Regions from separate parts of the Homo sapiens genome. Here region 1 is linked to region 2. The links come from fine-mapping of genetic effects on gene expression. Tissue or cell type: sigmoid colon. Region 2 holds a variant in brackets; the other region holds the start of a gene. All regions are shown on one strand. Distances are between the middles of the regions.

What was found. PIP is the estimated chance that this variant, and not a neighbour inherited with it, causes the effect.
Region 1: SLC16A12 starts here. The variant in region 2 is fine-mapped to the expression of SLC16A12 in sigmoid colon (GTEx, PIP 0.99). The same link has a PIP of 0.9 or more in tibial nerve.

Annotation. Positions count from the first base shown.
Region 1 is chr10:89,531,545-89,539,644 of GRCh38, forward strand. SLC16A12 (solute carrier family 16 member 12) reads right to left here and starts at 4,050. Exons shown (of 8, transcript NM_213606.4): 1 at 3,898-4,050; 2 at 2,957-3,096. RefSeq lists an enhancer at 2,317-3,216.
Region 2 is chr10:89,472,306-89,480,413 of GRCh38, forward strand. The region is part of intron 2 of SLC16A12 (solute carrier family 16 member 12); the gene reads right to left. Among named protein-coding and RNA genes, the nearest start is that of SLC16A12-AS1, 20 kb to the left of the region's middle. RefSeq lists an enhancer at 4,062-4,562. The variant G/A (reference allele first, on the strand shown) is at 4,054.

The DNA.
Region 1 (8,100 bases), 59 kb after region 2:
GTCTGAGCAACCACCAGGATGTGGTTCAGAGGAGGAGAGCATTGGTTAATCCAATGAGTTGTTTCAGTGTTGGGCAGTATTTCATTAAGCAGAACAGAGTCACATGCATGTAGAGGGGCAGAGAGGTGATAAGTGTCTATTATATGACCCAACACAGCCTCAACTGGTTCCCAAGAGGAAGTTCTCTACGTGTCTTCAAAAAGAGGCAAGGATGTGCTGCCATAAAGATAGGTATATCCTCTGCCTCTATAAAAGCTTTACCGTGCTTTACCATCTTTCAAGAAGCAACTCCAATGGGCCCTCCTCTACAAAGTCTTCCCTAACCCTCAAATCTTCACAGTGCCTGCCTGCTCTCTCTTCTTCCTTTTAATTCCCAAAGTACTTATGCATCTCTTATGGTAGTTTGAATCGGTATGATAGCTAGCCATACAATGTCCTCTCTTCCATACCAGGATGTAAGCTGCATCAGAGGCATGTTCTGTGTCTTTACACGTCCTGCTGTCACCAGCACCAGAAAAGAGATGCTCAAAACACAGTCTTCACACAAATCCTTATACAAATCTTTTAATAAGAAGTAGAAGTTCAATAAATATTCATTAAATTAATAAATGAATGAGCACACTAATTAAATAATTAATTAATTTCATGCAACATCTTACCTGGCTACAGCAATTAACCCTACTCGTCAATGCGCGGTAAATGAAGGAAGGATATGTATCTGATGGGGCACAGTGGTGGGTGAATGAAGAAAAAAAAATCAGCTACTCCAGGTGCCTAGCATGCATCAGAAATTGTGACTGTTCCCCAAATGTTCAACAGACACCACCTTCAAACAGGACATTGTTAGATAATGACACTTTCTGATGTCCTTTGATGTAGAGCACATTAAAAATATTATCAGAGGGAAAATCTTTCTGTTCAAAATCCCCCAACCTCTTCAACTGTGTATTTAGTTTTCATCAATTAAATTATTATATCATTTCAATGGGTGACTTTTTATATACACTGGAAAGGTACTCATAAGAAAATAGCTTCCAAATTGGCAATTTTTAAAAGCAAAGCAACTGGTTAGGTGAGGAATGCATAAACAACCCCAAAAGCGGCACTGAATACTTTTCTTTGGCTGTATACGACTGAAAAACTGCCAAGTTCATTTCGATAAGCCTTTGTTAAAAACAATAAACATGCCTGAGCTTGCAAACTATGCTGTTTTGAAGAAAAAGCAATTGAGAGAATTAGAAAATGCTTAAAACTGGAATGTCTAATAGTCTATGAATATGGAGGAAAGTGGGGGACAAAATGTAAAGTGAGACAAAATAACAACAGAACACCATCTTCATAAATAAATAAAAAGCAACATCTTATAAACTAATTTAATTAGTCTCCAATACTAACATGGTACCACTAACACTCTTAAGAAAACAAATCATCCCGTGCTTCAAGTTTAGTCACCAAGGTGATCTCCCTGCAATAAAGGAAATGTAATTTCATTGACTCCAAATGAACATATATTAAATAACCAAATGTGGGAACTGCAATTCACTTACAGTAAAATGTCAGCTCATAAAAGTCAAAGTAACTTCACCTGAATTTGTTTTTTTGTTGTTGTTGTTGTCGTTTTTAGTTTTTTTTTTTTCCATGATTATAAGATTCTCAGAATTGCAGGATTGGAAGGAAGATAGTTTGGATCACTTATGTTTATTTTCCTGCTTAGGTAAAACTGAAATTCTCTTGTACCTGCCTAAGAAATCCTGGAAAAATTCTAGTGAATAAATTGCAACTTGAGCTCTATAGGATCAAAGTTCTTTGTTTTGTTCATTGACATATCCCAAATGCCCAGAACAGCACTAGGCATACAGTAGGCACTCAATAAATATCTGCTCAATTGAACTAAATTGAAAAATATGCAGTGCAATGCAATGTTAAATAAGTCACTTTGAAACTCCTTTCTTAGCTTTGTTTTGGTCATAGTATTAATCACAATAAACAAACAGTCCTCATATAAAACACTTCAACACTATAATTCATGTTTTTACTTCTGATCGATCATTACCATAGAGGGTGCTGAGAATCAGAAAAGACTCCAAGGAAAGATGGGGGTAGAGTTACTCCCATCTATTTGGACTAATTTTCTTCTTCTGGGCATTCACCTGAGAAGTATCTGTATATCCATAATATAAAAATAATTTAAAATATTACTTAAAATTAAAGGTTTGCACCTTTAAAAATTGTGCCACAAAAGCAATTTGATTAAATCAACCTCTCATCTATTTCAGAATCCCATCAGTTAAAAAAAAAAAACATAAAAAATAAGAACAGGAAAATGATGTGATTAGGTGATGCTAGTCATATTATTTTTGCTCAAAATGCCTAGAGGCAATATGCCTTGGAAAACTGAGTTAGGTGGGAATGAGAAGATCTGGATTCTAGTGTTGATTCCATCACCAGTTAACAGTATGAATTCAGCCAATCCTTGCCAATCTGGATCTGAGCTTCCTGGGCTGTAACGTGAAGAGTTTGAATTTAGTAGATGGTCTCCAAAGCCTTTCAGTTTCAAAGTTTCTCTAAACCCTGTAATTATAAGTGACTAAATCCAGTTCACCTAATTACTACCACTACTCTTTTACATCCTTCATTTCTTCAGCAAACATCCGGTCACCTTGGGGGCGCAGGGGGTGGAGGATGTCAAACACCATTAGCCACAGTTTGGCACGACATTTATGGAGGGGGAGCGACAAACAATGCAAGGGCAGCTAGCTGATGATTTTAACTGTTAGCGAGCTTACACCTGTGGAGCGAATGTGTTTCTGAATTTGAAAGGCCGGAAGATTTTCCCCCTGGGCTAAGCTGGTGACGCCGCGGGAGTGCCTAGCTCTGAGCAAAGAACCAGGTAGGATGAACTAATTAGAGGCTCTTCAAAAGGAGAGTGTTTAACCAGTTTCCTGGCAGGACTCACCTGACTAGACATTTTTAAAAATTATGGCCAGGCACGGTGGCTCACGCCTGTAATCCCATCACTTTGGGAGGCTAAAGCGGGCAGATCGCTTGAGCCCAGGAGCTCGAGAGCAAACCGGCCAATATGTCGAAATCCTGTATCTGCAAAAAAAAAAAAAAAAAAAAAAAAAAATCCAAAAATTAGCCGGGCGTGGTGGCGCGCACCTTTAGTCCCAGCTACTCCAGATGCTGGGGAGGGAGGATCGTTGGAGCCGGGGAGGCGGAGGTTGCAATGAGCTGAGATCGCGCCACTGCACTCCAGCCTGGGCGACAGAGCGAGACCTTGTCTCTAAATAAATAAATAGTATAAGAGGTTTAGAATGCTGATGTGTGAAAACGGAAGACTAACCAAATAGCCCCAGGACTTACTGAAATTGTGCTTCAAAATTTTGTTACGAACGCTTTTCCGAGTCCACAATACAGGTATCACTGGTTTATTTGTGGACAAGAAGCAACTGAGAAATTGAGTTCAATCCACTGAAAGCCGGTGTGTTTTTAATATAGCACACACGGGAAATAAATATTATTGTCTGAGGTGGGGGACGGGGAGAGATTTTTAAAATGTACTATAAACATAAAATCCAGAAGAAAGATGGTCTCTATTCCACCGAGAAGTCTGCATTTGAAAACCACAAGAGATGGAGATCAAAGCCGCTCGTTCTCCAGCCACCTGCCCAAAAACTCGGCCGCAGCGCAGACCCAACCCAGACAGGGCAAGTGAGCACGTGTCTCCCTCCCAACCCAAGCTGCGCGCCGACGCACCCAAGTTAGGGTCCCAGGCTCCCGGCGCGGGATGGGCGCTAGGGCAGCGGAGAATGGAGGGTCCCCGTCCTCCTCCAGCTCCAACGACAGCGCCAGCGCCCCGCCGTCCCGCCGCCCTTCCTTGAAGGATGCCCGTGTCACCTGAGCCACCGCGCCCTCTGCACAACCGTGTCAGGGAGAGGGAAGAGGGGGAGCCGAGGAAGCTTCTTGGCCAGGGCGCTGGGGATCCGGGAGCGGGGGCCGCCGGCGAGACTGAGCCCGGGACAGCCCAGAGCTCCAGCGCTCCAGCGCTCTGCAGCCCGCCCAGAGCGCGCAGACCACCCCCATGCCCCGCCCGCCCTCCTGCCACACCCGCCCCCAGCCCGGCCCCGCCGCCTCCTCACCTCGCCGGGACCACTGCAGCCCTGGCGGTAGCGCGCGGACATGCCCCCGGGGCGCACCCGCCGAGCCGCGTCCCTGCGCAGTGGCCCCTTCCCGGGCCCCAGGCTGCGCGATCCGCGCTTCGGTGGGGCGGGGAGCGGACTGGGCGGAGGCGCCGGCGAGGCTGGGGCCGGGGGCCTAGCTGGCAACGCCGGGAGAGGGAAGCGTAGCGCGGAAAATCCCAGTGCTCGGCCTTCGAAATGCACCGGCTCATTCAGCCCCGCCAGCTCCGCCGGGGACTCTGCCTGGCCGGCAAAGAGGATTTAGCGCGGGGATCCGCTCTAAGTACTGTGGCTTGGCTAGGGGCGAGGGGCGCAGCGGAGGAGGGACGTCTCGCGGTTATGTAATGCACCGGCTTTCTGTGTCCCCAGCCAAACCGCTCTAGGACTGCCGGACCCTCCCCGGGAAGAGCCATGACCCCTGACCTCGGCAAGCCGAGGGGAGCTCGGTGTTCCCAAAAAGAACTTTTCCCCTCAGGGTCAAAGAGCAAGATCTCGAGAAAAAATACAAGGCCTCCTTTAGGTGTATCTGGCAGGGATCCGGACCCTGCTAGCCAATCCTTCCCATTTCACAGCACAGGAAACTGAAGCTCCAGAATGCTAGTGAAAAGCGTTATCTCTTGGAGTCAAAAGGACCTGGGTTCAACGCATCTGAAAATCTCATAACCTTGGGCAATTTAACTCTCTGAGCCTCACTTTTGCTTGTAAAACAAAGGATGATAGCGCCCACTTCATGTTGTTGCTGCGAGTATGAAATGAGTGAGGTGTAGGCGCCCGGTACATAATACAATTCCCCAAACGTTGACTCAAAGCCTGAAAAGGGAGCTGCCAGGACGTACCCCACGTAGGACAGGTTCCAGGCGAACTTTCTGTAAAGTCCTCTCCTTGTCAGAAGCAAGGCCTCTGAACTGACAAGGTCTGGTTCCAATATCTTGGAGCCTACGTCCTCACTTCTTCAAGAGTGGCCCGTAGACCAACAGCGAGGTCATCACCTGGGTGCTTGTTAAAAATGCGGAATCTCAGGCCCAACCGCGGATCAGAATCTGCATTTTTTGCAAGATTCCCTGGTGATTTCGCTGTATGTCAAAATTTCAAAATGAATTAGGCTTTTTGGAATTATTATTATTATTATTTTTGAGAAGCAGTCTCGCTCTGTCGCCCAGGCTGGAGTGCAGTGGTGCGATTTTGGCTCACTGCAACCTCCGCCTCCCTAGTTCAAACGATTCTCCTGCCTCAGCTTCCGGAGTAGCTGGGATTACGGGCGCGTGCCACCACGCCCAGCTAATTTTTTGTATCTTTGGTAGAGACGGGATTTCACCATGTTGGCCAGGCTGATCTCGAACTCCTGACCTCATGATCTGCCCGACAAAGAGTTACTGATGAACAGTAGGGAGCATTTGCCACGCAGCAAGGCACCGTAGGTATGTTTTTTTTTTTTTTTTTTTTGGGAAGGAGTCTCGTTTTGTTTGTTTTCTAAAGAAGGGATTTCACTATGTCGCTAAGGCTAGAGTGCTGTGGTGCGATCATAGCTCATTGCAGTCTCGAACTCCTAGGCTCAAGGGATCCTCCTGCCTCAGCCTCCCCAAGCACTGGGATTACAGGCTTGAGCCACTGTGCAAGCCAGGGGTTTTTTTAAATAGTCTAGTATAGTCCTTTCTCATTTTACCCTCTGGCTATTTTTAGTCATCCCCCTCCTCTCAGTTTCCTGCCCTTTAACTATAAATCTGAATTTAAGTCCTATTTTCACTTGCAAAAAACCCTAGGTTAGATTTAAGTGATGATTAGTGAATAAATGTTCAAAACTCACAAAAGAAAGAACAAATACAGCTTGTAAAAGAATTCATTAGCATTGAAAATGAACCTGTAAATGTAGAGGCTGCCATGAGTGAGCCCTGACCTCTCAGCCGTGAAGGTCTTTAGGTTAAAGGCTTGAATACCTTTGAGTTTCAGAAAAATGCTTCTTTCAGTTAAACATTGCTTTGGGTGGCAAATAAGTCTCACTTTCCATTTAAATAATGTAGGACAACAGTTTTTAAAGTTTTGGAGACTAGGACACCGCACAAGGCTTCCTTTCGTCTAAGTCACCACTTACAGGGGGCTCTAGCAAAGACCAAAGCTAATACTGTGTTTATTCTATTCAATGCTGTGTCACTGATGTTGTTGTTTCATTAGAAGTTCAGATTTTGTGTGTCTGATTCTATCTCTGGCAGGATGATTTTCATCCTTTACGAGTTCAGTAACTGTGGGTTGATGATGGTGATGGTGAGTGCAATGCGTATAGGCAGTGCCGGATACAGACGGGTCACTTCTGTGTGCCTACCCCTTTGGGGTTCCACGCTCAAGACCTGACATAGCTGCTGACAGGCAGCATGGAAGTGGAGAAAGGGAGATGCACAAAGCAAAACAATCTCCTTTCACTGAGGCTGGAGGATTGGGGGTGGAGAATGTTGGACTGCTATCGCTGTGCAGAAGAAAAGCAAAGCAAAGGAACCCTAGAATCCAACCTAGGAGGAAAGGGAAGGAGCAACATTTCTTCCAAATAGCACTGTCCAACAGAATTTTCTACAGTGATGGAAATGTGCTATGTTTGCACAGTCCCAACACGGCTATAAAATATGGCTATTTACATTTTAGTTAATTAATTATAATCGTAATTAAAATTGAGGTTTCTTGTGTGTGTTTTGCTTTTTTCTTTTTTACTACTAGTCTGTTGCACTAATCACCTTTCAAGTGCTTCACTCCAAGATGTGGCTAATGTCTACCATACTGGATAGCACTCAAAACGTTTTCTTCATCACAGAAAGTTCTACTGGACAGTGACGCTTAGAGGCCAGGATTTTGGTAAAGAAATGAGCCCAGATACCCAGCTTTTCCAAGTCATAGTCAGAACTTCATCTGTCTAAAAGCAAGTAATAGAATGAAAATTAAACCTACATCGAGGCTTTGTGATAATCAAAATGAGTTAATCTATAGAATGTATTTAATTCAATGCCTTGCATATTATACATGTGTAAAAAATATTAATCCTTATTAGTATTAATAGTCTTTTACCTTAAAAATATTGGGGAATGACAAAGATTTTTTTCCTTGGCCAAACTTTAGTCAGGCTCCTGAACTTTCTCCTAAGACCATGTGTGTATTTCCTTGTAAATTCCAGTTTATCAAAGAACCCGGCAAAATCAGTTTGGCAATAACGTCCCTTCCCATTGACAACTGATCACCCAAGGGTTCCTCATCCTCCACTGTCCTCCAGGTGATATCTAATCACCTTGGCCTGTCTTTAGTAAGAATCCTGTTAGGTCGATTTAACTAGAGTCCCATATCCTGTTTCTTGGCTATAAATTCCGATTTTCCTCTGCTGTATTCATAGTGGAGCCCCATCTCTCTACCCTACTGCAAGTCTTCGTTGTAGTGGTCCCTGTATCTGTCTCAATGGTCCTGAATAGTCTTCTTTACCATGCTGTAACAAGTGACATTGAATATTTTTTTTCTTTAATAGGGACATGGCATTAATGGTACATCATTATTAGTTAAGTAACCTTTCGCTGATGTGGTCAGCTGATCTGGTACCTCCACATGCATTAATAGTTGTGTTCTAACTTTCTCCCTTCCTCTTCTTCCCTACTCAGAATTGAGTACTATTTGTACTTTTCTGGCCTGGAGGCACAGAATATTTTGTCAAATCCCTACCATTTGTAGCCAATAAATAACACGTGTGTTAACTAAAATCCTATTGCACCATGGTTCAGTGGAATTAATTTTCAGATAGGATTCTGAGAAGCCTGACACCTTAGGGTACATCCATTATGAAAAGAATTGTTTGTTCCTGTTATTTGGTCAAACAAGAATGTGTGGACTCAGTACAGAAAAAAAGGGAACATTGGCTACAGATAAGTAATATTTGGGGTGTCCAGGTCAAGATAGA
Region 2 (8,108 bases):
AAACAGCAATAAGAAAAATTTACAAAGGCCTAAAAAAGAGAGAAAGAGAGATACCCTGTTCACAGATTGGAAGACTTGGAAGATGTCATATCTACTTAAGTTAGTTGATAGTTTCAGTGAAATCCCAAACAAAATTCCAGCAGCATTACTTCTTTCTTTTTTCTTTTCTTTTCTTTTCTTTCTTTTTTTTTTTTTTTTTTTTTTTGAGATGGAGTCTTGCTGTGTTGCCCAGGCTGGAGTGCAGTGGGGCGATCTCGGCTCACTATAACCTCCACCTCCTAGGTTCAAGTGATTCTCCTGCCTCAGCCTCTCGAGTAGCTGGGAATCCAGGTGCCCACAACCATGCCCAGCTAATTTTTGTATTTTTAGTAGCGATGGGATTTCACTATGTTGGCCAGGCTAGTCTCGAACTCCTGACCTCAAGGGATCCACCTGCCTTGGCCTCCCAGAGTGCTAGGATTACAGGTGTGAGCCACCGTGCCTGGTCAGTATTTTTTCTTTTAAATTTTTTTCTTTTTTATTATTTTCTTGAGACAGGATCTCACTCTGTCACCTGGGCCAGAGTGCAGTGGCGCTATCATGGCTCACTGCAGGTTTGACCTCCTGGGCTCAAGTGATTCTACCACCTCGGCAACCCAAACAGCTGGGACTACAGGCACATACCACCACATCTAACCAATTTTTGTATTTTTTTGTAGAGATGAGGTTTCACTATGTTTCTCAGGCTGGTCTCAAACTTTTGGGCTCAAGCGATTCTCCTGCTTCGGCCTCCCAAAGTGCTGGGATTACAGGCATAAGTCACTACACCTGGCCTCAGCAGTCTTTTTTTTTTTTTTAATGGAAACTGACAAGCTGATTCTAAAATCTATATGGAACTGCAAATGACCTAGAAAAGCCAAAATATTTTTAAAAGAAAGAACAAAGGTTGAAGACTTACATTAACTGATTTCAAGACTTGTTCTAAAACCAGAGTAATCAAAACAGTGTGATATTGGCACATTATATTAGTGGAACGGAATAGAAAGTTCAGATACAGACCTACACATTTATTCACATGGGGAAAAATGAATCTTGACTCTTATTGTCACTCCATTTATACCAAACCTATAGATAGAACATGTAAACGTAAAAGAAAACTATACAACTTATGGAAGAAAACAGAGGGAAAAAAATCTTTATAACTTGGGAATAGGCAAAGGTTTTTTAGAGAGGACAAAAGCAGCAAAATAAACTCCCCACTCTTGCCTTCATTTAAAATGGAGGCTTATGAAGAAGTTTACATTTATTATAGCAACAAACAAGTTGTAATTTTTTTCGTATCTATATTGTTTTACGAGTAAGTTTCAACCCTACCGCAACTCACTAGAGAAGATTTCTAAATGAACTCTACTATTACCTCTGCAGTGGGGAGGTACTCTTTTAGGGTACCTTTGTAACCCTTAATGTGTCCCATTTGAAGCTCTTTGATCTACACACTCACTCCTGTCTCTGTAGAGAAGCAAGAGGGAAACACACAGATAATATTTCTAATCATGGAAACTCAGTGTCCTCAGCCATAATCTGTTTGCCTGAGGATTGGCTGGTCCTTGAAGTCCTCAGCAGAAGCCACGTTCAGCCCATAAATATGATCATCTCCTTAGCCAAATATCAGCCTCACTCCTAGCCCATCACTACCATACCCACCTATCCTATAATACTATAAATTTCTTTCAACTCACTGAAAAACTCAGGCTTTATATCTTTTTACATGCTATTCATTTTACCTTCAAATTCCTTTCTTCCACACTTCCCCACCTGAATTACCTATCACTCCTGATTCCACTGCTTCTATGCCTTAAAACAGGCATCTCCCTCTTCCAGGTTTTTGGAGATCTCTGTGTATGCCTTTCCTGGCACTTATCAAATACATTCTTGTTATCTATTTACCTTTCTCTCTGTCTCCCACTAGACTGTTTAACTCCCAGAGCAAGTCACCTTTGCATCTTCCCCCAATTCCTCTCACCTTACCCAAACCCAAACAAAATACATGCATGCACACACACGCACCCAAACACACTGCCTGGTTCAGAATAAGAGCTTACTCTACGCCTAATAAATGAATGAAATAAGTTCTGCCTTCACCAGGGAGAACCCCCTCAAGTCATAAGAAATAAAAGTGTAAATAACTGTCACTAGTTTTTAAATGGCCATTCAGCTGAAAGAAACATGGAAAGCACTTTATCTTCATCAGAGAGGTCTAATCTTCACAAAGCAAGAAAATCAACCATTATAACTAGAAAACGAACAGTATTTAACACAACCAGCTTCTCTCTAAACAGCGCACACCAGAGTGTGGCATTCATGTCACGGAGGTACCAGCCAGCACTCAGAGCTCAAGTGTCTGACTCTTGGAACACAGAATAAGCCACAAAGTAATAACAGTAACAATGATTATTACTATTTAGGGGCACTGAATCCACCAGGCTCTGAATTCACTGCTACATATATGTTATTCCATGTTATCTTCATCTTGACCCTGTGACGTAGGTATTATAATCTCCATTTTACAGACAAAGTAAGGAATGCTCTATCCAAGATTCTACCTCAGGTCTGATTTCAAAGCTTGTGCTCTTATTCACCGCAAACCATTGCCTCTCCCTGGCCTTTAAGCTGCGTCTTGGTAGAAGCCATAACTGTCATGTTGGATGTTGTGTCCCCAGCAACTAAACAGTGCCTGACATGTGTTTGCTAAATGTTGTTGCTAAATGTAAGCCTCTTGTGGATATTCAGAAAACGATAGATTGGCTCCCTATCACTTCACATTTTATTACTCCCTCTTAACAAGAATTAAATGTCTGCCTCTACCCCACCCCAGTTAACATCCTGGCCTATGGCTAGGAAACAGAGAGGAAACCATGTGTATTAAAGGGTAATTTTCCAAGTATGAGAGAATTCCAACATTTTTTTCTGCACAGCCTTTACAGCAGTGTAGCAAAGGGTTCCAGCTGGTAGCCTTACAGACTTCTATCCTAGGGGCAAACTCGAGTTCCAAAGGGACTGAACGTGGGAGGGAAGTTAAGAAACCCCTCTCTCTCTGCTTAGGCTTGCACAGTCTCTGGCCCAAGCACCCAATTGTTTTCATCCACTTAGAGCCTCTGGATCCTGGAGATGCCTTCAACTGGAAATTGATTTATTTATTTTTATTGTTTACTGACATTACACATGTGCCATGAGACAATACATATATAATGTTCTAGGTGAAGAGAGACTAAGACTGCTTTTTTTGATGTGCTTATTTTTCCTTTCTGCTTCTCTCTGCTTAGTCCTCAAACAAATCCTGGTAACGGGAGTAAATAATTACTGACTTCAACCAGAAATTTTTGGATGTTTGTCAGAGACCTTTGGGCACTAAACTGAAACACTGACCTTTGCTAAAGAAACTGCCAAAGCCTCTACATTGTGTGTGATGCTTTGAGGACAGGAACACTTTACATAAGACTTAGAATAAACAGCAGAGTGATTTATATGGTATTTGGTCTACAGAAAGGAAGAAAAAGGTACAACTCGTGATTCACATACGAGGCAGACAGTAGAAAGCAAAATTCTTTCCCACCCTTTCAGTTCCTAATCCACAGAGCCACCGATTCTAGGCAACATCAGAAAAATGCTTACTTCTGAGTGGTTGAATGTGCAATTCATAACCAGAAGCTTGCCCCCAACTACATTTTCTGCAGTAATAGGGTTCTGGTATAACATTGGGTGTAGTGTCTGGCATAAAGTCGGTGCTCAATACTTGTGTAGTTCCATGAATAAATTTTTGTGTCTAACTCAGTGCCTTGTATAACTCTTTTATTCTAATTTTGTACTCTGTTACAGAGTATGGCATCATTAAGTCAGATTATATCGGAGGCATCTTGGCTGTAAAGGAGAACCTGGGAGTTTGAGATGCATTTCACAGAGTCTTTTTGTTCGTCATCAGAGAGCCTATTATTGAGAACAGTGCTGCTCTCCATACCACGATATTTCCTTCACTCTGTAATCGCTGCCATCCGCCATGCTGTTGAAATGGGAGGG[G/A]CAATGAGTCCATTATTTCAGTCAGCTAGAAATTAACCCCTCATGTCATGGAGTACTACGGAGAACTGGTGTTTGTAGGAGTGCAGGCAGAAGAACATAGTTCTGCACTCAGAGTGTGAGATCCCTAAGAGGAGGGACCCTGGAGGCTCCCACTCCCCACTATCTCCAGTGCCTAGGATCATGCCTGGGAGAGAACAGGGACTCAATAAGCAGTTACTGAACAAACTTCCCAGTTCTCTGGTTCAGGATAATTTCTCAAATTACATGGGGAAATGGTACACGGAGCTTGAAGAATGGTAACAAGAAACCCTTTCTTTGATCTTTTTATCCACCATAACCAGCCTTCCCAGCACTGGGGTCATAGAACCCTAACTGACTACATCTCTCTGGGCACATACCTAGGCCCTGACCCCAGACCAGGCCAAAGGTGGAAACAGAAATTCACTGGCAGATTTGCCCCTTCTTTCTGCTTTTGCAAAGTGGGCCGCAGGAGGGCTCACCTACAGGGCCTGGCACTCGGCCCACAGTCTGCCCCACATCACGCTGGCCATCACATTCCACAGGCCTGTAGAGATGTTTATTTTTGTGTTCTGTAGACTCTGCTCACTGCTTGAGCCACAGCAGGTCACACAAAGGACAAGGTGTTGCCAAGGCTGAGAATGTGGTGTACTATTTTTTTGTAAGACGGGGGCTTGAATTTCTGCTGTGAAATGAGTTAGAAATGATTTTACAAAAATTCCTTCAAGATACGGATGGTCGTTTTTGTTCCTATCCTGATAGAAATAGATATTGTTAAACCAGTTCATTCCACCTCCCTCTAGTTTGGAACCGAAGAAAGTTTGATGAACTTTTAACAAAGTCCTTGGAAGTAATTCCCAGATTCTTTGCATGTGAGTACAGTCTGTACATTTAAAAACATGTCCAGCCCAGGCGCAGTGGCTCACGCCTGTAATCCCAGCACTTTGGGAGGCCGAGGTGGGCGGATCACTTGAGGTCAAGAGTTCAAGACCAGCCTGACCAACATGGAGGAACCCCATCTCTACTAAAAATACAAAATTAGCTGGGCGTGGTGGTGCATGTCTGTAATCCCAGCTACTCGGGAGGCTGAGGCAGGAGAATCACTTGAACCCAGGAGGAGGAGGTTGCGTTGAGCCGAGATTGTGCCATTGCACTTGAGCCTGGGCAACAAGAGCAAAACTCTGTCTCAAAAAAAAAAAAAAAAAAAAAAAAAGATGTCCTTAGCCAAACACAGCAATAGTTATATTCTTAATATAAGCCATAAGCCATTTGTTAGTTAAGAATCTGTATAAAGACAATAAGTAAAATAAATTTGATGAATTTTCAAATAAATTTTCTTATGAATCACTAAGGCACTTACACATTTGAAGAATCATGTAACTGTGTAAGATATTCTGTCCACCAACAATATTATATGTACATATGGATTTACAGTCTCTGTACTAAGTCTATTGTTCCCTCCCAGTTCTGAGACCGGCCCCTGCCCTGCCCCCGCCCCCACCCCCACCCCGATGAAGTCCCTCTGTTTATTAAGAGTAGGACTTGTGCCTTGGAGAACATGAGTTCTTTCTGGTTTACTGGGTATATTATTTAAGGAACTGGGAAGGGAAGACTTCAATAAAGACATTGTTTATAAAGGTATAAGCAGTGTTAATAATATCTAACAACACTATATCATGATAGTGTTGGAGAATAACAGTTACATCAAGTAGAACTTAATAAAGGAAGTGGAGTGCCTTGGGTCTAGTAACAGTGGGAAACTATTACCACCTCTAGACTTAAGGGGGCAGAGGGAGAGAGCAGTTACTAGAATCTTGGAGAGTTGACGTAGAAAGTCCCTGTTGAAGGGAAGCAGTCAGTCCACAGGATCTGACAGTGAAAGAACCAAGGAGGTAAACACATCAGCCACACCTACTCCTGCATTCCAAGTCTCAGAGGTAATTGAACCCAATGGGAGCCCAACTGATGCAGTCCATAAATGTTTTCAGCCTCCCAGGTCAGAGAACAGGGTGGAAGTGGGATGGACAGTGAACCTGCAGGGGGAAACAAAAACTGTGTTGCATACCAGTGTGATCCGTAAGCTTGCCTTGCAGCATTCTAGGGCTATGGTAAAAAGGTGAAGTCAAGTCCTGAGCTCACGCTGGGCTTTGCCTTTAAACTAGATCAAGTTGCTGATGTTTACCAACTCAAATCTTTTAGTGTATTTCAAAGATGAAACTCATCTGTGAAACCAACTTCCTCTTTCACTGCTCAGACTTAAGCATTCCCTTAGTTTCAGCCACCTATCACCTTTATTTAAATGGACAACTATAAAATCTGCATCTCTGCTTCCGATCTTTCTCCCAAGTTACAGACTCAAATTTCCAATAGTCTGCAGGGTACCTCAAACTCTCATGTCCAAAAACACTGGCTATTCACTCCTGGAAACACTGTTTTCTTAATGCTCTCATTGTTTCCAACTAGAAATGCTAAAAGCTTTGAGTCATTTTGACTCTATCCCAACTCTCATTACAAGTGAATCCAACTCTTATCACTTATTTTTTGTAATCCCTTTCACATCTGCCCTCCCATCTTAATTTTCCATTGCCTTGTTCCTGAACTGAGCCTGAGCCCGTCCTAGCCTGGCTTGTTCAGCCCTGACTCTACCTCTTACTTATGGACTGACCTTATTTAGACTTCTCTGCCACTTACTAATAGTGAACTGTCACTTAGTGTCTCAGTGCCTCATTCCTTATCTGCAGGATAGCCGCATGTTTAGTACCTACAGCTGGGGACAAAGACCTCCTTTTCCATGATCCTGTGGGGTGGAGACTCCAGTAGATTTAACACTCCTGGCTCTTCTCCTTCTCCTCACTTTTCGCTGTAAGAGGGGTTGCTTATCTGTTTCCTTGGGAGAAATCATTGCCTACACTCACCTCACACTCTTTCTCTTTTTTTTTTTCATGTGGGATCTGCCTATTTGTAGAGAAGCTTATCTTCCTCAGCAATTCTGTGCTATAAGTAAAATAGGGGAAGATGCCCTTGCAAGGAGGCCTGTGGTTGTTTAAGAGCTGACAGTGACTACAACTTGGCTCCTTTTCATGAGCAAAGTATTGCAACCCTACTTGGCTAGTTGTCCTAAGCCTCGTGCCTTAACTATCAGTATTATTAGCCTTTAGGGTGGCATTTTGATCTTCATCTGTTTAATTCCTGTTTCTACCTCTAAATTGGCTTAGAACTTAGGGAAAATATGAATGTTTTGTATTGGTCCTTTCAAATCCCAACTCCTACCCCACGGAGTTGTTGAGAAAATGAAATGAGGTAACCCATATTATATCACAAAGCATAGGTCCTGTCCACAGTAAGCATTCAAATAAATGTTAGCTATTACTACTATTGTTATTATAGACTGCCTCCATGAGCCTTACATAAGGGATAAAAAACTTAAAATTTCAATATCCTGTGATTATTATGATTTATATATCACGATAGTGTTGGAGAATAATAGTTATATCAAGTAGAACTTCATAAACTGCAAAAGAAGCTCTATCACCATTCTCTATCCAAAGACTTTACATAGAGGCATTTACATGTCTCCTGAGGCTGGGTGTGAAAAATGTTCTGAAAGATAATTTATCTGAGAAGGAGGCTTATAAGAGGCCCTTTAGGTCATGATGCAGCTGTAAATAGTAACACAACATGGCTCAGAAAAAGATCTTTAAAAATAAAAAAGAAACCCACATTCCTCTGACAGGACACCCCTCTCTCAATAATTCCAGGGTTTTTTTGCCATCCCACTCCACCCTCAGTTATACTACTACTCTTTGAGGCCATTAAAACTGCTGCAAATATGAATACCACATTACATTTTGAAGCACATGGAACAGTGCCCTTGGCATGAGGTCAGACATATCTGGCTTGGAAACTCTACTCTGATAATTACTAGCTCTGTGATTTTGACATGCAACTTAGCTTTCTGAATCTGTCCTGCTGTGTACATTGCAGTGAATATTTCCTTTTAAAGGGGGCTTTAATGAGGGTTAAATGGCAAAATACAT